4 linked regions of the Homo sapiens genome follow. The protein of the gene in region 1 interacts with the protein of each later gene in a pairwise test. Each region holds a gene or a part of one and is shown in the gene's direction. Other genes may lie near its edges.

Region 1 (4,578 bases):
ATTATCAGTACACAGTCCATCTTGACCCATCTGTACATCTCCCAGCACACACACCTACTAGGTTATTTTAAAGCAAATCCCAGACCTCATATCATTTTACCTAAACATATATCCATATAGATTTGTAAATATAAGGCCTCTTTTTGTCGTTCAACATCATTACACTACTGTTTTCACACCTAAAAAAACTTACCGATTTCTTAATACCATCAAATATCCTGTCAGTCTTCACATTTCCTCAGCTCTCACAAATGGTTTTTGTCAAGATCCAAATGAGGCCCACACCTTGATTTGATTAACATTTGTCTTAGGTCAGCCAGGCACAGTGGCTCACGCCTGTAATCCCAATACTTTGGGAGGCCAAGGCGGGCAGATCACGTGAGGTTGGGAGTTCGAGACCAGCCTGATCAACATGGAGAAACCCCGTCTCTACTGAAAAAAATACAAAATTAGCTGGACGTAGTGGTACGTGCCTGTAATTCCAGCTACTCGGGAGGCTGAGGCAGGAGAATCGCTTGAACCTGGGAGGTGGAGGTTGCAGTGAGCCAAGATCGTACCATTGCACTCCAGCCTCGGCAACAAGAGCGAAACTCCGTCTCAAAAAAAAAAAAATTTTTTTTTGTCTTAGGTCTCTCTCAGTATTTAGGTTTCCCCATCTTCTTTGTGTTTGTTTGTTTGTTTGTTTTTGTTTTTTGAGATGGAGTCTCACACTGTCACCCAGGCTGGAGTGCAGTGGCGTGATCTTGGCTCACTGCAAGCTCCACCTCCTGAGTTCAAGCAATTCTCCTGCCTCAGTCTCCCAAGTAGCTGGGATTACAGGCACCCACCACCATGCCCAGCTAATTTTTTGTATTTTTAGTAGAGGCAGGGTTTCACTATGTTGGCCAGGCTGGTCTCAAACTCCTGATCTCGTGATCTGCCCACCTCGGCCTCCCAAAGCGCTGGGATTACAGGCGTGAGCCACCACACCTGGCCTGATTTCCTCATCTTCTAAAAAAAAATTTTTTGGCCCAGGCGTGGTGGCTCACGCCTGTAATCCCAGCACTTTGGGAGGCAGGTGGATCACCTGAGGTCAGGAGTTTGAGACCAGCCTAGCCAACATGGTGAAAACACATCTCTAATAAAAATACGAAAATTAGCTGGGTGTGGTGGCGGGTGCCTATAATCCCAGCTACTCAGGAGGCTGAGGCAAGAGAATTGCTTGAATCCAGGAGGTGGAGGTTGCAGTGAGCTGAGATCACACCATTGCAATGCAGCCTGGGCAACAAGAGCAAAACTCAATAAATAAATAAGAAAGATTTTTTTTTTTTGCCATTTATTTGTCAAAGAAACCAGCTCAGTTGTCCTACAGAATTTTTCACATTTAGGAGTTGGCTGATTGGGTGGAGATTGACACATCCTCTCTGCCCATATTTCTTGTAAACTGATAGATCTAGAGGCGGAATCAGCTTCAGGTGCCAAGAAGACTTGACAGTGGGTGCAAGTGCTTCTGGCCACATCACATCAGGATGCATGGAACATCTAATCTGGTCATTTTTCTTGTTAGTGATAAGATTGACCAGTGGGTTCAGGTGATGTCAGCCTGAACCTTTCATATAAAGTTTCTCATGAGCTTTGTGTCTAGTGTTTTTAGCAACCATTGGTGGTCTTGCCTGTTTATGAACATCATAAAAGGGGTATCAAAGTATGTTTATCTTCTGGTACTTGCTTTTTGTTTTTTAACTTAATATCACATTACCAAGATCTGTGCACATTGCTGTCTGTAACTTTTTCACTGCTGTGTAATATTCCATGCACCCTCTCTTTATGTGGCCCTTTGTCTCCTCTGCTACCCACACTTATCCCCAGCAGCCATCCGTGGGTAGTGGCGGGGGGCAATGGTGGTGGTGGTTTTCTTTACTCACCTCATTGTCTGAGTCCTGGGGGTTGGATATGTCTGTTCTGCCTCTCTCCCAGTCTGAAGTTGAAGCTCTAACTGAACAACTAAGTGAAGAGGAGGAGGAGGAAGAGGAGGAAGAAGAAGAAGAGGAAGAGGAGGAGGAAGAGGAAGAAGAAGAGGAAGATGAGGAGTCAGGGAATCAGTCAGATAGGGTAAGAGACGGAGGCTGATATCTCCAGAGGAGTGGGAGACTATGGGGCTGGAGGTCTGGTCCTGAAGGTGTTGGGGGGGCCCCTGGGGGTGAGGGTTCCTAACTCCTCCTCCTCCCCCTTCCCAGAGTGGTTCCAGTGGCCGGCGCAAGGCCAAGAAGAAATGGCGAAAAGACAGCCCATGGGTGAAGCCGTCTCGGAAACGGCGCAAGCGGGAGCCTCCGCGGGCCAAGGAGCCACGAGGTGAGGAGGCTCTGCTGCTTTTGGGTGCCCTCCAGCCCCCGCCCGGCCCCCCAGAGTGTGTGCACGCACACACACGCTCTCGCATGTCCACCTGCATGTACCCACGCGTCCAGGCACCTGTGAGCTCGCACTCTCACTCTCTCTGTCTCTGTGTCAGGAGTGAATGGTGTGGGCTCCTCAGGCCCCAGTGAGTACATGGAGGTCCCTCTGGGGTCCCTGGAGCTGCCCAGCGAGGGGACCCTCTCCCCCAACCACGCTGGTAATTGCCAATTGCCGGGACAGGGAGCCACTAGGGGGCGACCTCAGGGCAGGAGGGAAAGGGAAGGAGGGGAACCACGCCAGAGCCGGGGTGTCCATGGCCAGGCTTTAGGGGTTCTGGGGCATGGCGGGGTGGGGTAGGGAGGGAGTGAGAGGACCCGCCAGGGGTCCCAGTAGGTGAGGTGCAGAGCCTCCCTCAGCTCCTCTTTTCCTCCATCCAAGGGGTGTCCAATGACACATCTTCGCTGGAGACAGAGCGAGGGTTTGAGGAGTTGCCCCTGTGCAGCTGCCGCATGGAGGCACCCAAGATTGACCGCATCAGCGAGAGGGCGGGGCACAAGTGCATGGCCACTGAGAGTGTGGACGGAGAGGTGGGGCCGTGGGCTGGTGGGAGAGGTGCCAGGGCGTCCAGTCCCCGGCCCCAGCCTCACGCTCTCTTCTCACCCATCCTCACTGCGCACAGCTGTCAGGCTGCAATGCCGCCATCCTCAAGCGGGAGACCATGAGGCCATCCAGCCGTGTGGCCCTGATGGTGCTCTGTGAGACCCACCGCGCCCGCATGGTCAAACACCACTGCTGCCCGGGCTGCGGCTACTTCTGCACGGCGGTGAGTGACCAGTGGGGCAGACAGGTAGCATGCCCTGTGGCAGAGGGGGCCCCAGTAACCTGACCATGTCGTTTCCCTGCTCCCAGGGCACCTTCCTGGAGTGCCACCCTGACTTCCGTGTGGCCCACCGCTTCCACAAGGCCTGTGTGTCTCAGCTGAATGGGATGGTCTTCTGTCCCCACTGTGGGGAGGATGCTTCTGAAGCTCAAGAGGTGACCATCCCCCGGGGTGACGGGGTGACCCCACCGGCCGGCACTGCAGCTCCTGCACCCCCACCCCTGTCCCAGGATGTCCCCGGGAGAGCAGACACTTCTCAGCCCAGGTACTGGCCTCCCCCTTCTGTACTGTCTGTTCCCTCCCCCACCCCTATTGCTCCTGGACATGAGCTCCTTCTTCCACAGTGCCCGGATGCGAGGGCATGGGGAACCCCGGCGCCCGCCCTGCGATCCCCTGGCTGACACCATTGACAGCTCAGGGCCCTCCCTGACCCTGCCCAATGGGGGCTGCCTTTCAGCCGTGGGGCTGCCACTGGGGCCAGGCCGGGAGGCCCTGGAAAAGGCCCTGGTCATCCAGGAGTCAGAGAGGTGAGTGGGGAGTTGCTCAGGCACAGCAACTGGGGCTGAGGCCAGAGGAGTGGTGTCGAGGCTGATGCTGGAATCTGAGGAGCTCCCCTTCTCTCCCCGCTCCCGTGCTCCCTTGGCAGGCGGAAGAAGCTCCGTTTCCACCCTCGGCAGTTGTACCTGTCCGTGAAGCAGGGCGAGCTGCAGAAGGTGATCCTGATGCTGTGTGAGTGCCACCCATTCCTTCAGCAGACCTTGACCAAGCTTCATGTATATACCAGGCACTGGGTACAGGGCCAGGAGTACAGTCGTGAAGGACACAGTCCTTGCCCTGAAGGACTTAGTGTGGTGGGGAAAAGACACATGTAACCCATAACGATGGGGATGTGGTGACTCATAGGTGCTGGGTCCTGTTCTGAGTGCTTATACCTGTTAGCCTTGGCTTGCACAGAGAGGTTAGGGACCTTGCACAGTGCACAGTGGTACTGAGAAGCAAGGCAGGGTTTGAATTCAGGCAGAGCTGATGCCTTTGACTCCTTATTCTGATAAATGCTGTGGTGGAGGCAAGCTCGGAGAATGCCAGGAGGGGCCCTGATCCAGCTTGGGGCCCTGAGAAGCCTTCCTGAAAGAAGTGCCACCTGCCCCCTAGCTTGCTTACCACTTGTCCCTCCCTCTCCCGGTGTGGCGGGCTCTCCCCGCAGTGGACAACCTGGACCCCAACTTCCAGAGCGACCAGCAGAGCAAGCGCACGCCCCTGCATGCAGCCGCCCAGAAGGGCTCCGTGGAGATCTGCCATGTGCTGCTGCAGGTCAGCACGGGCCC
Region 2 (4,578 bases), on another chromosome or scaffold:
ATGGTGGTCCCTGGGTTCACACCACCATAGTGAGCAGATACAGATGCGAAGGGGAGAGGAGATGCACGTCCCAAACAGAGGAATTCCACCCTCGAGAACGCCCGGCTCCCGGCAGGCTGTGCAGAGCAACTGAGCACTTTTCTCTTTATTCTTTCTTTTTTGTTGTTGCTTTTTTGAAACAAGGTCTTGCTCTTTTGCTCAGACCAGAGTGCAGTGGCACGATCTCAACTCATTGCAGCCTTGACCTCCCAGGCCCAAGTGATCCTCTCACCTCAGCCTCCCAAGTAGCTGGGACTACAGGCGCACACCACTGCATCTGGTTAATTTTTAAAACACATTTTATAGAGATGAGGTTTCACCATGTTGCCCAGGCTGGTCTTGAACTCCTGGGAGTGAGCCACTGCCCCCAACCCATTTATAACATTAAACCAAATTATCTTTAAGAAAAGTGGCCAGGTGCCTTGGCTTACTCCTGTAATCCTAGCACTCTGGGAGGCCAAGGCGGGCAGATTGCTGGAGTCCAGGAGTTCAAGATTAGCCTGAGCAATGTGGTGAAACCCCGTCTCTACAAAAAATTTAAAAATTAGCCAGGTTGGCTGGGTGCGGTGGCTCATGCCTGTAATCCCAGCACTTTGGGAGGCTGAGGCGGGTGGGTCACGAGGTCAGGAGATAGAGACCATCCTGGCCAACATGGTAAAACCCCGTCTCTACTAAAAATACAAAAATGAGCCGGTGTGGTGGTGGGTGCCTATAGTTCCAGCTACTCAGGAGGCTGAGGCAGGAGAATCGCTTGAACCCGGGAGGTGGAGGTTGCAGTGAGCTGAGATCGCACCACTGCCCTCCAGCCTGGGCGACAGAGTGAGACTCCATCTAAAAAGGCCGGGTGCGGTGGCTCACGCCTGTAACCCCAGCACTTTGAGAGACCAAGACGGGCGGATCACGAGGTCAGGAGATCGAGGCCATCCTGGCTAACACGGTGAAACCCAGTCTCTACTAAAAAATACAAAAAAATTAGCCGGGCGTGGTGGTGGGCGCCTGTAGTCCCAGCTACTCGGGAGGCTGAGGCAGGAGAATGGCGTGAACCCAGGAGGCGGAGCTTGCAGTGAGCCGAGATTGCACCACTGCACTCCAGCCTGGGCGACAGAGCAAGACTCTGTCTCAAAAAAAAAGCCAGGCATGGTGTAATTGGACTGTGGTCCTGGGAGATGGAGGCTGCAGTGACCTGACATCACACTGCTGCATTCTAGTCTGGGCAACAGAGTGAGACCCTATCTCAAAAAATTAAAAAGTTAGGTGAGGCTGGGTGCTGTTTACACCTGTAATCCCAGCACTTTGTGGGGCTGAGGCAGGCAGATTGCTTGAGGTCAGGGGTTCCAGACCAGCCTGGCCAACATGGCAAAACCCTGTCTCTACTGAAAATACAAAAATTAGCTGGTCGTGGTGGCTCACGCTTGTAATCTCAGCTACCTGGGAGGCTGAGGCAGGAGAATCACTTGAACCCAGGAGGCAGAGGTTGCAGTGAGCCAAGATCACAACACTGCACTCCAGCCTGGGCGACAGAGTGAGACCCCATCTTAAAAAAAAAAAAAAAAAGAGTTATAAATAGTATTCCATTAGGCACTTGCACTGTGATTAGAATTACAGCACAATTCTTGCAGTAGCAAAGATGTTATAAAAACTCGTTCAGAAAACATACGTGCTTCTCTGGTGGCGTTTTACAGCCGTCTTGACTTGGAGACGTTTGTCAGCCAGGCCAGGTGGGAGGGCTGGTCCCATGCGGGGGGTCCAGGCTGCGTCCGCCGCTAGGGCCGTGGCTGCTGTGCAGGTCACCCCAGAGGGGCTGGGATAGCTGGGCGTGGCCTCCCAGGAGCTGACTGAGGTCCTACCCAGTGTGGCGGGGGCCTTTTCCTCCTTGGGACCCTGCTGTTCTCAGGTGGTACACTGGGGTCTGGAAGGGAGGGAGAATGGAGACACAGGTTGAGGTTGGGTGCACACGCCCGCCTTCTCCCCTGGGATAGACGCCACGGGCGTCCAGAGCTGCAGGATTTGCTCCATTTGTGAAGTGCCCTCCTGGAGTCCCGAGGGGTGGTGTGGTTACACCTGCAGTCCCTGGACGGCAGGGTCCGGCCTTGGAGCCCCTCCTGGGAGCTGTGCAGCCCGGGTTTGGTCGCGTTTCTCAGACGCCCCTGCCTTGCTGTTACAGACGGCCAATGGGAACGTGGAGGCCAAAGTGGTGTGCTTCTACCGGAGGCGGGACATCTCCAGCACCCTCATCGCCCTGGCCGACAAGCACGCAAGTGAGTCCGGCCTTCCCTGGGGTGCCCGCCTGGCGGGAGGGTCGGCTGGGGAGGGCTGGCGGGGTCCTTCTTCCCTAGGGCCCATCGGCATCCTGGCCTCGTGGGGCCACCCTCTGCCCAACTCACTCTGGCGTCTCTTTTTCTCCCTTCCACAGTGGGCGGGGGTGTCCTGGCTCCGTTTCCTCGGGGGCTGGGTGAATGAAGTCCTCGCACGCCCCCCGGAGTGGTCTGTCTCTCACTGGCATCCTCTGCAAGCTTGTCATGGTGTGGCTGGGTGTGGGCATCATTGATCGAGGCTTCTTTTTCCCTTCTATGATGACTTCTGGAGACTTTCCAGGCTGGTGGGACCCTGCTGCCTGCACTTGCCAATGTCTCTCTCTTTTTAATTTTGCGGAGAGGCTTCTGTTGGGATTCTGAGTAGTGTTTTCAGGAAAGCAGTCCTCTCCTTATTCTTTACGATTCAAACCCAAGTTTAGTAACCTGGCTGGGAGGGGCTGCTGTGGCCAGCACAGCGTGTGGGAGGAAGCCACTGGCTGCATGGGAATGCCCTCAGCCTTGGGGACCCAGCTTCTCCCCCGGGAACAGGTGCTCGCAGGTGGTGGAGTCTCCTGTGCCGGGGGATGTTGACTTCAGAGCCAGGAGCCAGAGGCACCCCCACGCCCTCCACATGCTACTGACACAGGGCCTGCCGAGCTGGGCCCCACCTGCACCAGACACAGTGTGGTACCCCACTGAGGCCCTTCATGTGTCGGTGGGGGCAGGCATGAGGGGCATTTTTGGCTTCCACTCTGACACATCACCTGGGGTGGGATCTGAGCCCAGGCTGAGGCTGTGGTCTGTAGGGTGACATTTCCCAGTAGGTGAGGCATGTGACTGCCCGGGTACCCGTGTCGCTGGGGTGGGCCAAGGTCCCACCTGTAACCTCCCACGACCCCTAATGGGGTGAGGTCCAGGGACTGTGGGTTTGCGGTGGGTCGGGTGGGAGGACCCTCGCATCTTCTGCCCCGTCCCAGCGCTGTGGGTGAGGGGCAGGAAGTCAGCCCAGGCAACCTCCCCCTGCTCTGGGAGGGGCTTAGGGACAGGACAGACCATCCTGCCACCGATGCCTTGTTCCTGAGCCTTTGCTGGGAGTCGGCCAGGGCAGGCGCTTGTGGAAGGAAGGTGTCCCTTAACCCCACTGCCTTGCCCACCGGACAGCTGGGACCTTTCCTCAGCAACCAGTGGATGCGGACGTGAGCTGCCCTGGGTCAGTGCAGCTGGGCCGGGCCCCCGAGCCTGGGTCCACTCTGGACACTGGGCTGTGGGGCCTGTGGCTGGCCCAAAGGGAGCTGCCAGTTGACCATGGGCTTTCTCTGGCTTTGTGAGGAACTGGACCTCCTAGCTCTCTGCTCAGAGGAGGGGAGCGTTCAAGGTGGGGCATGGTGATCCTTGACCTCTGACCCCAAAGCCTGTGTACTCCACTGCTGCACTCGGCGGGCTCCAGGCACCAAGGAGGAGAGCTGGGGATGTTGAAGGTCCACAGGCTACACATTCTGGAGGGGTGTTTGGTGTGGCCCTTGGCCCTGCAGGTGCTGGGTGCCAGTCAGCAGCACGGCTGGCGGTTCTTAGTGTTGGAGGCTGGCCTATGTCGACTCTGCAGGGCTGGCCCGCTGGAGAAGCAGTGGTGGGGAGCGGCCTGGCTCGCTGGAGAAGCAGTGGTGGGGAGCGGGCTGGCCCGCTGGAGAAGCAGTGCCCAGGCTGAGCGGCCGCAGTGTGGCCCTGCCAGTCTGTGTGGCCTGGGGAGTCAGGCGCCACCGTTGAGTTGGGCATGTTTATGGCTGGCCCAGGGTGGATCCTGTCTCTGTCCTCTGGCACCTGGGGGCACAGTGTCCCTGCTCCAGAGAGCCTGTATCAGTGGTTTAGTGGTTTTTGAGGGTACTGTGGCCCCCTTGGCTGAGGTTCTGCTCTCAGACGCCCCAGAGGATGGCCTTTTGCTGGAAGAGCCCCAGAAGGGGACTCCAGACATAACGTGATTAGAGGTATCAGAGGGCAGGTTTTCCAGAAGGGCCTCGTTGGGGCTGATAGGACTGGGTGGAGAGCAGTGTCCCAGCTCGAGCACTGGCCCCCCCAGGTACACAGCACAGCCCCTTTGGACGGTGCTCCCTGGAAAGCTGCGTGGCGGCCCCTCTGCAGGGCGTTCCTATGAACTGAGAGCCCAGCTGCAGGGAGCAGGCGTCATGGGTGATGGGTCTGCCGCTGGTCCAGGGACTCAGAGCGCGGCCCCACTCTTGCCTGGCGGCTG
Region 3 (4,578 bases), on another chromosome or scaffold:
ATAAAAATAAAAAAATAAAAATAAGCTGGGTAAAGGGGCATAAGAGATGATTTTACTTTCAGTCCCAGACTCTTTGAAAGATGAGATTTTAGGCTGGGCATGGCGGCTCACCCCTGTAATCCCAGCAATTTGGGAGGCCAAGGAGGGGGTGGATCACTTGAGGTCAGGAGTTCAAGACCAGCCTGGCCAACATGGTGAAACCCTGTTTCTACTAAAAAAGTACAAAAAAATTAGCTAGGCATGGTGGCATGCACCTGTAATCCCAGCTACTCAGGAGGCTGAGGCAGGAGAATCCAGGTGGAGGTTGCAGTGAGCTGAGATCACGCCATTGCACTCTAGCCTGGGTGACAGAGCAAAACACTGTCTCAAAAAAAAAAAAAAAAAAAAAAAAGTTGAGATTTTAGAGAGTTATGCACGATTCTGAATTCCGAATATTCTTTTGCTTTTTTGTTACTGAATATTTAAAAGTGTGCAGATATTTTCAAATTGCTTAGAGCCTCTGAAAGAGCAGTTCACTTATGTAACTCAGACCCTTTTTATGTTTAGAGTCATAATGTGTATTTTTCCCTTTTTAGTGAATTAATATTTTCCTCTTCCAGGTTTAGAAGGAGGAAGCTAGGGAACATAATATTGAAAGGAATTGGCTGGGCGGGTGCGGTGGCTCACGCCTGTAATCCCAGCACTTTGGGAGGTCGAGGCGGGCGGATCACCTGAGGTTGGGAGTTTGAGACCAGCCTGACCAACATGGAGAAACCCCATCTCTACTAAAAATACAAAATTAGCTGAGTGTGTTGGTGCATGCCTGTAATCCCAGCCACTTGGGAGGCTGAGGCAGGAGAATTGCTTGAACCTGGGAGGCATAGGTGGCAGTGAGCCAAGATCACGCCATTGCACTCCAGCCTGGGCAACAAGAGTGAAACTCCGTCTCAAAAAAAAAAAAAAATTGAAGGGAATTTGTAAAATTCTGGACTAGGCTGGCTGGGCACGGTGGCTCACGCCTGTAATCCTAGCACTTTGGGAGGCCAAGGCAGGCGGATCACGGGGTCAGGAGATCGAGACCATCCTGGCTAACATAGTGAAACCCCGTCTCTACTAAAAATACAAAAAAAATTAGCCGGGCATGGTGGTGTGCACCTGTAGTCTCAGCTACTTGGGAGGCTGGGGCAGGAGAATGGGGTGAACCTGGGGGGTGGAGCTTGCAGTGAGCCGAGATCGCGCCACTGCCCTCCAGCCTGGGTGACAGAGTGAGACTGTCTCAAAAAAAAAATTCTGGACTAGGCTAAATTGTCTGTGGTAGCTCACACCTGTAATCCTAACATTTTGGGAAGCTGAGGCCTCAGGATCCTTTGAGTCCAGGAGTTCCAGACTAGCCTGGGTAACATAGGGAAACCCTGCCTCTACCAAAAAAAAATAGCCGGGCATGATGGCACATGCCTGTAGTCCCAGTTACTTGGGAGGCTGAGGAAGATTGCTTGGGCCCAGGAGGTCAAGGCTGCCGTGAGCTGTGATTGCATCACTGCACTCCAGCCTGGGTAACACAGACTGTCTCGAAATTAAAAAAAAAAATTATGGTTTTGGTGTAATAAATATAAAGTAGCTTTGTACCTTTGGCCCAATTAAAATTTTCACATTAAGATTTGTCCGAGATGGTCGTTTATTAGGACAAAAGAAGCCTTATGATTGCAGGAGAAGAAACTTTTGTTTTGTTTTGTTTTTTGTTTTTTGAGATGAAGTTTTCACTCTTGTTGCCCAGACTGGAGTGCAATGGCGCAATCTTGGCTCACTGCAACCTCTTCCTCCCAGGTTCAAGCGATTCTACTGTCTCATCCTCCCAAGTAGCTGGGATTACAGGCATGCGCCACCATGCCTGGCTGTTTTTTGTGTGTTTATTAGAGACAGAGTTTCACCATGTTGGTTGGGCTGGCCTTGAACTCCTGACCTCAGGTGATCCACCCGCCCCAGCCTCCCAAAGTGCTGGGATTACAGGTGTGGGCCACTGCGCCTGGCCAGGATTTATAATGGAGGTACCAGAAAGCAGTCAAGCTGCATGGACCATGGATTTTCTAATGATGTTTTGTTTTCCTCCGATTTTCTAATGATGCTTTGTTTTCCTCCAGACTTCTCTGAGGGTTGTGTGGTTTATGAGACTTCATAGTGTTAAAATCTTTGAGTCTGTCTAGCTAATACCTTTCCCTCAAAATGCCATCTGGTAACTTGTTCAGTTTTGTCTTGAGAAGGCAAGCCTGACCTAGGACATTCTTAGTTTGAAGAGCCTTGAGACCTTGGTTTGTTTTGGGAATATCCCAGGGAATTTGCATTATTTTTATTTTATTCCAGAGACAGGGAGACAGGGTCTCACTCTGTCACCCAGGCTGGAGTTCATTGGTATGATGATAGCTCACTGTAACCTTGAACTCCTGGACTCAAAGCAGTCCTCCTGCCTCAGCTTTCCAAGTAGCTGAGACTACAGGCATGTACCACCATACCTGGCTAATTTTTTGTTGTTGTTGCTATGGATTCTTGCTCTGTTGCCCAGGCTGGAGTACAATGGCATGATCTCCGGTCACTGCAACCTCTGTCTCCTGGGTTCAAGCAATTCTTCTGCCTCAGCCTCCCGAATAGCTGGGATTACAGGCGCCCAACACCATGCCTGGCTAATTTTTGTATTTTTAGTAGAGACAGGGTTTCACCATGTTGGCCAGGCTGGTCTCAAACTCCTGACCTCAGGTGATCCACCCGCCTTGGCCTCCCAAAGTGCTGAGATTACAGGCGTGAGCCACTGCCCCAGCATTTTCTTTCTTTCTTTCTTTCTTTTTTGAGATGGAGTCTCGCTCCGTCGACCAGGCTAGAGTGCAGTGGCGCAATCTCAGCTCACTGCAAGCTCCGCCTCCTGGGTTCACACCATTCTCCTGCCTCAGCCTCCCGAGTAGCTGGGACTACAGGAGCCTGCCACTACGCCTGGCTATTTATTTATTTATTTATTTATTTATTATTTATTAGTAGAGATGGGGTTTCACCGTGTTAGCCAGGATGGTCTCGATCTCCTGACCTTGTGATCCGCCTGCCTCGGCCTCCCAAAGTGCTAGGATTACAGGTGTGAGCCACCGCGCCCGGCTTTTTTTTTTTTTTTCTGAGGCGGAGTTTTGCTGTTCTTGCCCAGGCTGGAGTACAATGGTGCAACCTCCTCTCACCACAACCTCTGCCTCCTGGGTTCAAGCGATTCTCCTGCCTCAGCCTCCTGAGCAGCTGGGATTATAGGCATGCACCACCATGCCCGGCTAATTTTTAGCAGAGATGGGGTTTCTCCATGTTGGTCAGGCTGGTCTCGAACTCCCGACCTCAGGTGATCTACCACCTCGGCCTCCCAAAGTGCTGGGATTACAGGCGTGAGCCACCATGCCCGGCCTCCTTTTCTCAAAATAACTGTGCTACTGCATTTGCCTATGTTAGTTGTCACCCAGGCTGGAGTGCAGTAGCATAGATCCTGGCTCACTGCAACCTCCTCCTCCCAGGTTCAAGTGATTCTCCTCCCTCAGCCTCCCAATTAGCTGGGATTACAGGCACCTGCCACCACACCCAGCTAATTTTTTTGTATTTTTAGTGAAGACAGGGTTTCACCATGTTGGCCAGGCTGGTCATCAAGTGATCCACCCGCCTTGGCCTCCCAAAGTGCTGGGATTACAGGCGTGAACCACTGCACCCCGCCTAATGTTTAAATTTTTTGTAGACGTGGTCTTACTGTGTTGCCCAGGCTGATCTAGAACTCCTGGCCTCAAGCAGTCCCCCATCTTGGTCTCTCAAAGCACTGGGATTACAGGCTGACTGCCTTTGCATTAAAAAAAAATTATTTAGTCTTTGAGACCACCAAGTGAAGAGAATGGCCTCAAGTGTAGATCAGTCCGTGGATGGGAACTGTTGGCATGTGATTCTGATCTTTTATGTTATTGATGTAAGGTATAAGAATTGAGGCAACTCTAAACTATTTACCATATCAGTTTAATTAGAAAGTTAATTACATCGAAATAGAAATCTTGACCTATGAGACCCTATATTCTTTGGCTGTCACTGCCCCTCTCTGACCTCCACTTTCGCTGAAAGCAGGTGGGAGCTCTGCCTTGCTTACTTGGCACAAAGCACAATGGGCTTTTGGCTGTTTCTCCCTGCAACCACCTTAGGAGGACCGTTTATTTGTGTCCGTCCTACCCCTCACCCCTTGCTCTTTTTTCCATATCATTTATCACCTCCAAATATACTTACTGTGTTTATTTTCATTACCTGTCTTCCTAGAGTGTCAGCTGCAGTGATCTTTTCTGTTTTGTCCAGTTATGCATTCTGAGTGCCTTAGAATAGTGGCTGGCACATAGTTAAAGGCATTCACTAAATACTTGTTGAATTAATTAATTTCTGAAATGTCTGATGTTAATGCTTATGTGTACATAGCTTTACTATTTACAAACTGCTTTGATTCATTCATTTTACAAATAAAATTGAGGACCTTCTACCAGCCAGGTACTTTTAGACAGTGAGAATGCAAGGGTGATAAAAAAAAAACAGGTCTAGTGGAGACAGACATCAACC
Region 4 (4,578 bases), on another chromosome or scaffold:
TGGTGTCTCTGTGGTCTCTTTCTGTCTGGAATAGTTCCTAAGTCTTCCTTGCACTTTAGTGCTTTTAAAGATTGCAGGCCAGTTATTTTGTAGAATGTTCCTTGATTTGGGTTTGTCTGATGTTTCCTCATAATTAGATTCAAGTTACTTACCTTTGGCAGGAATATCAGGGATAATACTCTGTTCCAATTGCATCCTGATGTTCACTTTGATCACCTGATTGACTGTTGTCTGCCAGCCTTCTTCACTGTGAAATGATACATTTTTTCTTTTTAATTAGTAAGATTTGGTAGGGAAATATTTTAAAACCATGTACATATCCCATTCTTCATTAATCTTCTGAATTATACTTTATTTGTATCAGTGTGGACTCAAGCCTTCTAATTTTGTTCTATTTGCTCTCGTTGTTTACTTTGCTGTTCATAATGTCCTAGATTTGGCCAGTGGAAGCCTCTTCAAATTGGTTTCTATGTTCTTTTGATGTGTTTGGGCACTTCCTTGCTTTCCGGCACAGCAAGATATTTCAAGATCATCTATACTTTTCCTGCCCCAGTCCTAGGATAAACCATTTTTCAAGAAGCCCTGGTTACTTTTCCTGGAGAATAATATGTGGAAGTTAGAACCTGTGCTCTGGTCATGCTCAGTGCTATCAGGTGGCACTGCTACCAGGTCCTCTCAATGGACAAAGCAAGGGGTGTTAAGTTTGAATACACACATCCCTCCCCACACACACTCATACATATATACACATTTACATCTATATTTATTTCTGAACCTCCAGTTCTAATCCATACAGGTGTTTAAACTGATGCCTTCATTCTAATCCAACACTACATGGTTCATTCTAGTTTTTTTTTTCCTTTCATTTTTGCTACTCCCTTCTCAGCCAGTGAGAAAACTGGCTTACTATTCAATTGCAGTAGGTAACCAGTCATGTATCATTACGCTGTCTCCTTCACACATGGGCTCTGCGCTCCAGGCCAGCCCATGTAGAAGCCTATCTTCCTTGGTCCTACCTAGTGGCTTTAGTCTAAATTGTTCAAGAGAAAGGAGTAGATGAAATTATGTTCTTAACATATGTTTGTATTGCTTTTGGATTCTCAGTATGTCATCATTACAAATCCTCAGAGGGTGTTTCTGTGTGACTGGGGGAGGCAGACTAATATAAAGTGCTCAATAAATCTATTTGATCATGAATCTTGTCTTGCATGGATTGGATTTTCATTTTAAGAAATCACGACTTTGTGAATATTAAGAGCATGACTTCTCCTTTGACCTTTACTCCATCATTTTGGTCTCAGATGGCTGGAGATAGCATATTCTTTTGTGAGCTGAGGAAGTCTTGACTGCTTGTGGCCTCCTGATCCTCAAAGAATAAACCATACTGATTTGCAATACTTGAGTTTCGCAATATTTGAGTTTTTCTTCAAGAAACAGATTTTCTTGGAAGCACACAAAGTTTGATTTAAGGGACTTAATTCAGTGTGTCTATAGACCCTGGATTTCAGACAATTAATGCTGAGATGGGGAGGGAGAAGCAGGCACTGGGGAAAAAAGATCCAAAGAAGATAAGCCCAGGAGAGTAAGGAGGCTGATGGAATGTAAGACAAATTTACGAATGGAAGCCAGAGGTGGTCACTATACTGCTTTGAAAACATCTTTACTTTCTCCAATAACCTTGAGCTGTTTCTTCCTGATTCTGACCTTGAGGATGGTGGTCAGGGGCAAAGTGCCCAAAGATCTGAAAATATTCCACCAATTAGTGGTTTGTTTTTCCTGGAATAAATATGATAGTCTTAGATTTCACCAATTCCAGTAAAAAATTTCTATTTTCCCCCTTAACATTTTCTTTTATTTTACCCATCTTTAAATAAAAAAAAAAAACTTCTCTTGATCTTACCAGCTGAAATCTCATTCTCCTCTTCTATTTAAAGCAAATCTCATGCTAACTACAATTTTTGTACTCCCATGCTCTCTTGAACACCCTCCAATCACTTTTGTCACCATTCTATTGAAAATACTCTGGTCAAAAGCAAGAAGCTCTACATTACTAATCAACCAATCTTTGATCAGTCCTCATCTTATTGTAGATTAATTCCCCAATCTTGATGCACTGTCTTCACTTGGCTTTCAACATGCTAGTCTTCTGGTTTTCCTTCTCCCACCTTATTTCCTCTCCTCAAGCCTTTTTGCTCTTTCTGCTCTTCTCTGGACTGCTAATAGTGGACTCTCCCAGGGCTCAGGCTCTCATCTCTTTATGTTCCTACCTATACCCTAATTTTGATATATACTGAATCTGACCATACCTCTACTGTTATTCTGGCCCAAACTTTTATTATGTCTCGGCTGGATGTTTATGATAGCCTCCTAACAGTTGTCCCCACTTCGGACCTTGCTCCCTTTAGTCTGTTCTCCACATAGAAACCCCAGGGGTTCTCTTGAAAATACGTCATGCCACTTCTTGGCTCAGGATCTGCTCCCCAGCCTTTTCCCTACCTTATCTCTGTCACCAGCTCACTCATTGTGGACCTGGCCTCAGCACGCTGACCCCATTGGCACTTGAATCTGTCATTCCCTCTGCCTAGAAAGACTTTTTCCTAAGAAGCTGCATGACTTACTCCCAAATTGAACTGTTTCTCTGCTCAACATTCTCAGTGCCCCCTCACTGCTTTATATTAATATATCCAAGGCACTTATGACTATCTGGCAGAGTGTTTAACGTTAAAGTTTGTTCCTTCATCTCCCCCACCTTCCCTCATGCACAATAAGGCTCCGTAAGGCCAGGGGTTTTGTATGGTTGTTGCTGTGTCTCTAACTCCTCAGAACACTTTACATTCTTTTCAACATACTATGTGGGACCTAAACGAATACTTGTCCCATATGAAAAGAGCTGTGTTCTGATGTCGGAGAAGGCGATTCCCAAGCTCCATTTTCTAACTGCTAAGAGCAGGGCCTGACTAATTTTTATTTTTTTTTGAATCAGTGAATGAGGGAAATGAATAACTGATAATATACATTCATTGTAGAAGGATACCTAAATAATAGATATGTATTTTCTTTCCTTTTTTCCTTATAATTAAATTTCTTAGACAATAAAATGATAGATTTATGTAATGGTTTCATGGTTTTTCATTTATATGTTACGTTATACCTCTTTTCTGTTAAGAATGATTTTTGACATCGAATTACACTGCAGTGTTTTGAAAAGTTTTCCAGTAGGGTTGAAGTGGAGGGCACACCACCACCTCCAGAGAGTGGATGCCCCAAACTCCTTTCGCCCATGAGCCACTCCCCCACTGCCCTCTCATCAAACACTGTCTTCAGTGTCTCTCTTGTGCCTCAATTTCAATTTTGGGGAATTTCACCCAATGTGGGCATTTGAGATTTATTTCTAAAGCACCCACAGTTTCTCAGAAGCAGTGCCTTTTTGAGTCGGGAGGCCATCTGAAGAGGAATCAGATCCTTAGCAGGGTGCCTAAGTTACCCTCAGTCCCCCCAAAGAAAGGAGAAACTCTTGGGATGATGGCTCCCCTAAAGAAGGCAACTTCTCCTGGAGGAAAAGGATATACATGCCTTGGATGACTCCTGCCCGCTCACAGAAGGCTGCTTTTGTTGTGGCTTAAAGTTAGATCTTCTGGTAGAGTTCTAGAATGTGGGCCCTGCCGATGAGTGACAGCCAAAAGCTCACCTTGGAAGAGGCACCAGAGTCACAGCCCCAGCTCTCTCAGGGAAGACGCTGCTCCAGAGCATCTCAGAAGCCACCAGGGAAGACAGTGGCAGATGGGAAGCCGGTGGTGCAGGGCCAAGGGCACAGCTCTGCCTGACGCAGCATTGTCAGCAATAGGTAACATATAACTTATGAGGAGTATCTGAGTACCAGCAGGCACTCTTGGGAGTGAAGGATGGGGGAAGAGAATCTGCCCCAGACTTCATATCCATTGGAAATGCCACATCAGGTGCTGTATCTTGGCATGGATTGTGTTTCCTGTAGGTGTGGGAGTTCTTCTTCTCACAGTCAAGCCCTCCACCTGTCCCTTGTCACACACCCTGTCCTTTTGAATAGAAATTCTCATCCTAGCCCAGCTTCAGGCACGGCCTGGCTTACCCTTGGACCCCAGAGATCTCACCCTTCTGAGGTCTCAACTCTCCTTAAGGAGTTAGGAAATGAAGCTTGGGAATCCACTTCTCGGACATCAGAACACAGTTCCTTTTGCACAGGACAAGTATTTATTTAGGTTCCACTTAGTATATTGAAAAGAATTTGAAGTGTTTTGGTGGTTTGTAGTCCTCTTTCATCATGCTGAATCAAGCCTCAAAAAGGTCAATTTCTGCAGTTGTTAAAACACAGAGGAATTTTTATAGTGTGTGTGTTTGCATAAGTTTATAAGGAGCTTTGTCACAAGGTCTTCTGTTTTAGAGAAACAAGCCATTTTACTCCTTTCATAGTTCACTGCAATTTATTTTATACTAATTTTCGTATTTACCTTTATTTCAATTCATGTTTTAGTCAGCTAGAGAAATTATTCAATTTTTTTTTTCAGAGAAGACACTAAGGTTGCATACTTTCAGAGATTTTCA

The links.
Region 2: the proteins of EHMT2 (region 1) and MTA1 interact in binary tests that used the Homo sapiens proteins (3 or more experiments, as listed by UniProt).
Region 3: the proteins of EHMT2 (region 1) and MTA3 interact in binary tests that used the Homo sapiens proteins (3 or more experiments, as listed by UniProt).
Region 4: the proteins of EHMT2 (region 1) and EPDR1 interact in binary tests that used the Homo sapiens proteins (3 or more experiments, as listed by UniProt).

What each region holds. Positions count from the first base shown.
Region 1 is NC_000006.12:31,886,981-31,891,558, reverse strand, and holds part of EHMT2 (histone-lysine N-methyltransferase EHMT2), read left to right. Parts: intron 1-1,956; coding exon 1,957-2,091; intron 2,092-2,216; coding exon 2,217-2,331; intron 2,332-2,488; coding exon 2,489-2,590; intron 2,591-2,811; coding exon 2,812-2,960; intron 2,961-3,052; coding exon 3,053-3,196; intron 3,197-3,282; coding exon 3,283-3,518; intron 3,519-3,597; coding exon 3,598-3,780; intron 3,781-3,899; coding exon 3,900-3,982; intron 3,983-4,457; coding exon 4,458-4,564; intron 4,565-4,578. UniProt on the Homo sapiens protein: Histone methyltransferase that specifically mono- and dimethylates 'Lys-9' of histone H3 (H3K9me1 and H3K9me2, respectively) in euchromatin.
Region 2 is NC_000014.9:105,443,215-105,447,792, forward strand, and holds part of MTA1 (metastasis-associated protein MTA1), read left to right. Parts: intron 1-2,203; coding exon 2,204-2,297; intron 2,298-4,578. UniProt on the Homo sapiens protein: Transcriptional coregulator which can act as both a transcriptional corepressor and coactivator. Acts as a component of the histone deacetylase NuRD complex which participates in the remodeling of chromatin.
Region 3 is NC_000002.12:42,571,020-42,575,597, forward strand, and holds part of MTA3 (metastasis-associated protein MTA3), read left to right. Parts: intron 1-4,578. UniProt on the Homo sapiens protein: Acts as a component of the histone deacetylase NuRD complex which participates in the remodeling of chromatin.
Region 4 is NC_000007.14:37,926,528-37,931,105, forward strand, and holds part of EPDR1 (mammalian ependymin-related protein 1 isoform 1 precursor), read left to right. Parts: intron 1-4,578. UniProt on the Homo sapiens protein: Binds anionic lipids and gangliosides at acidic pH.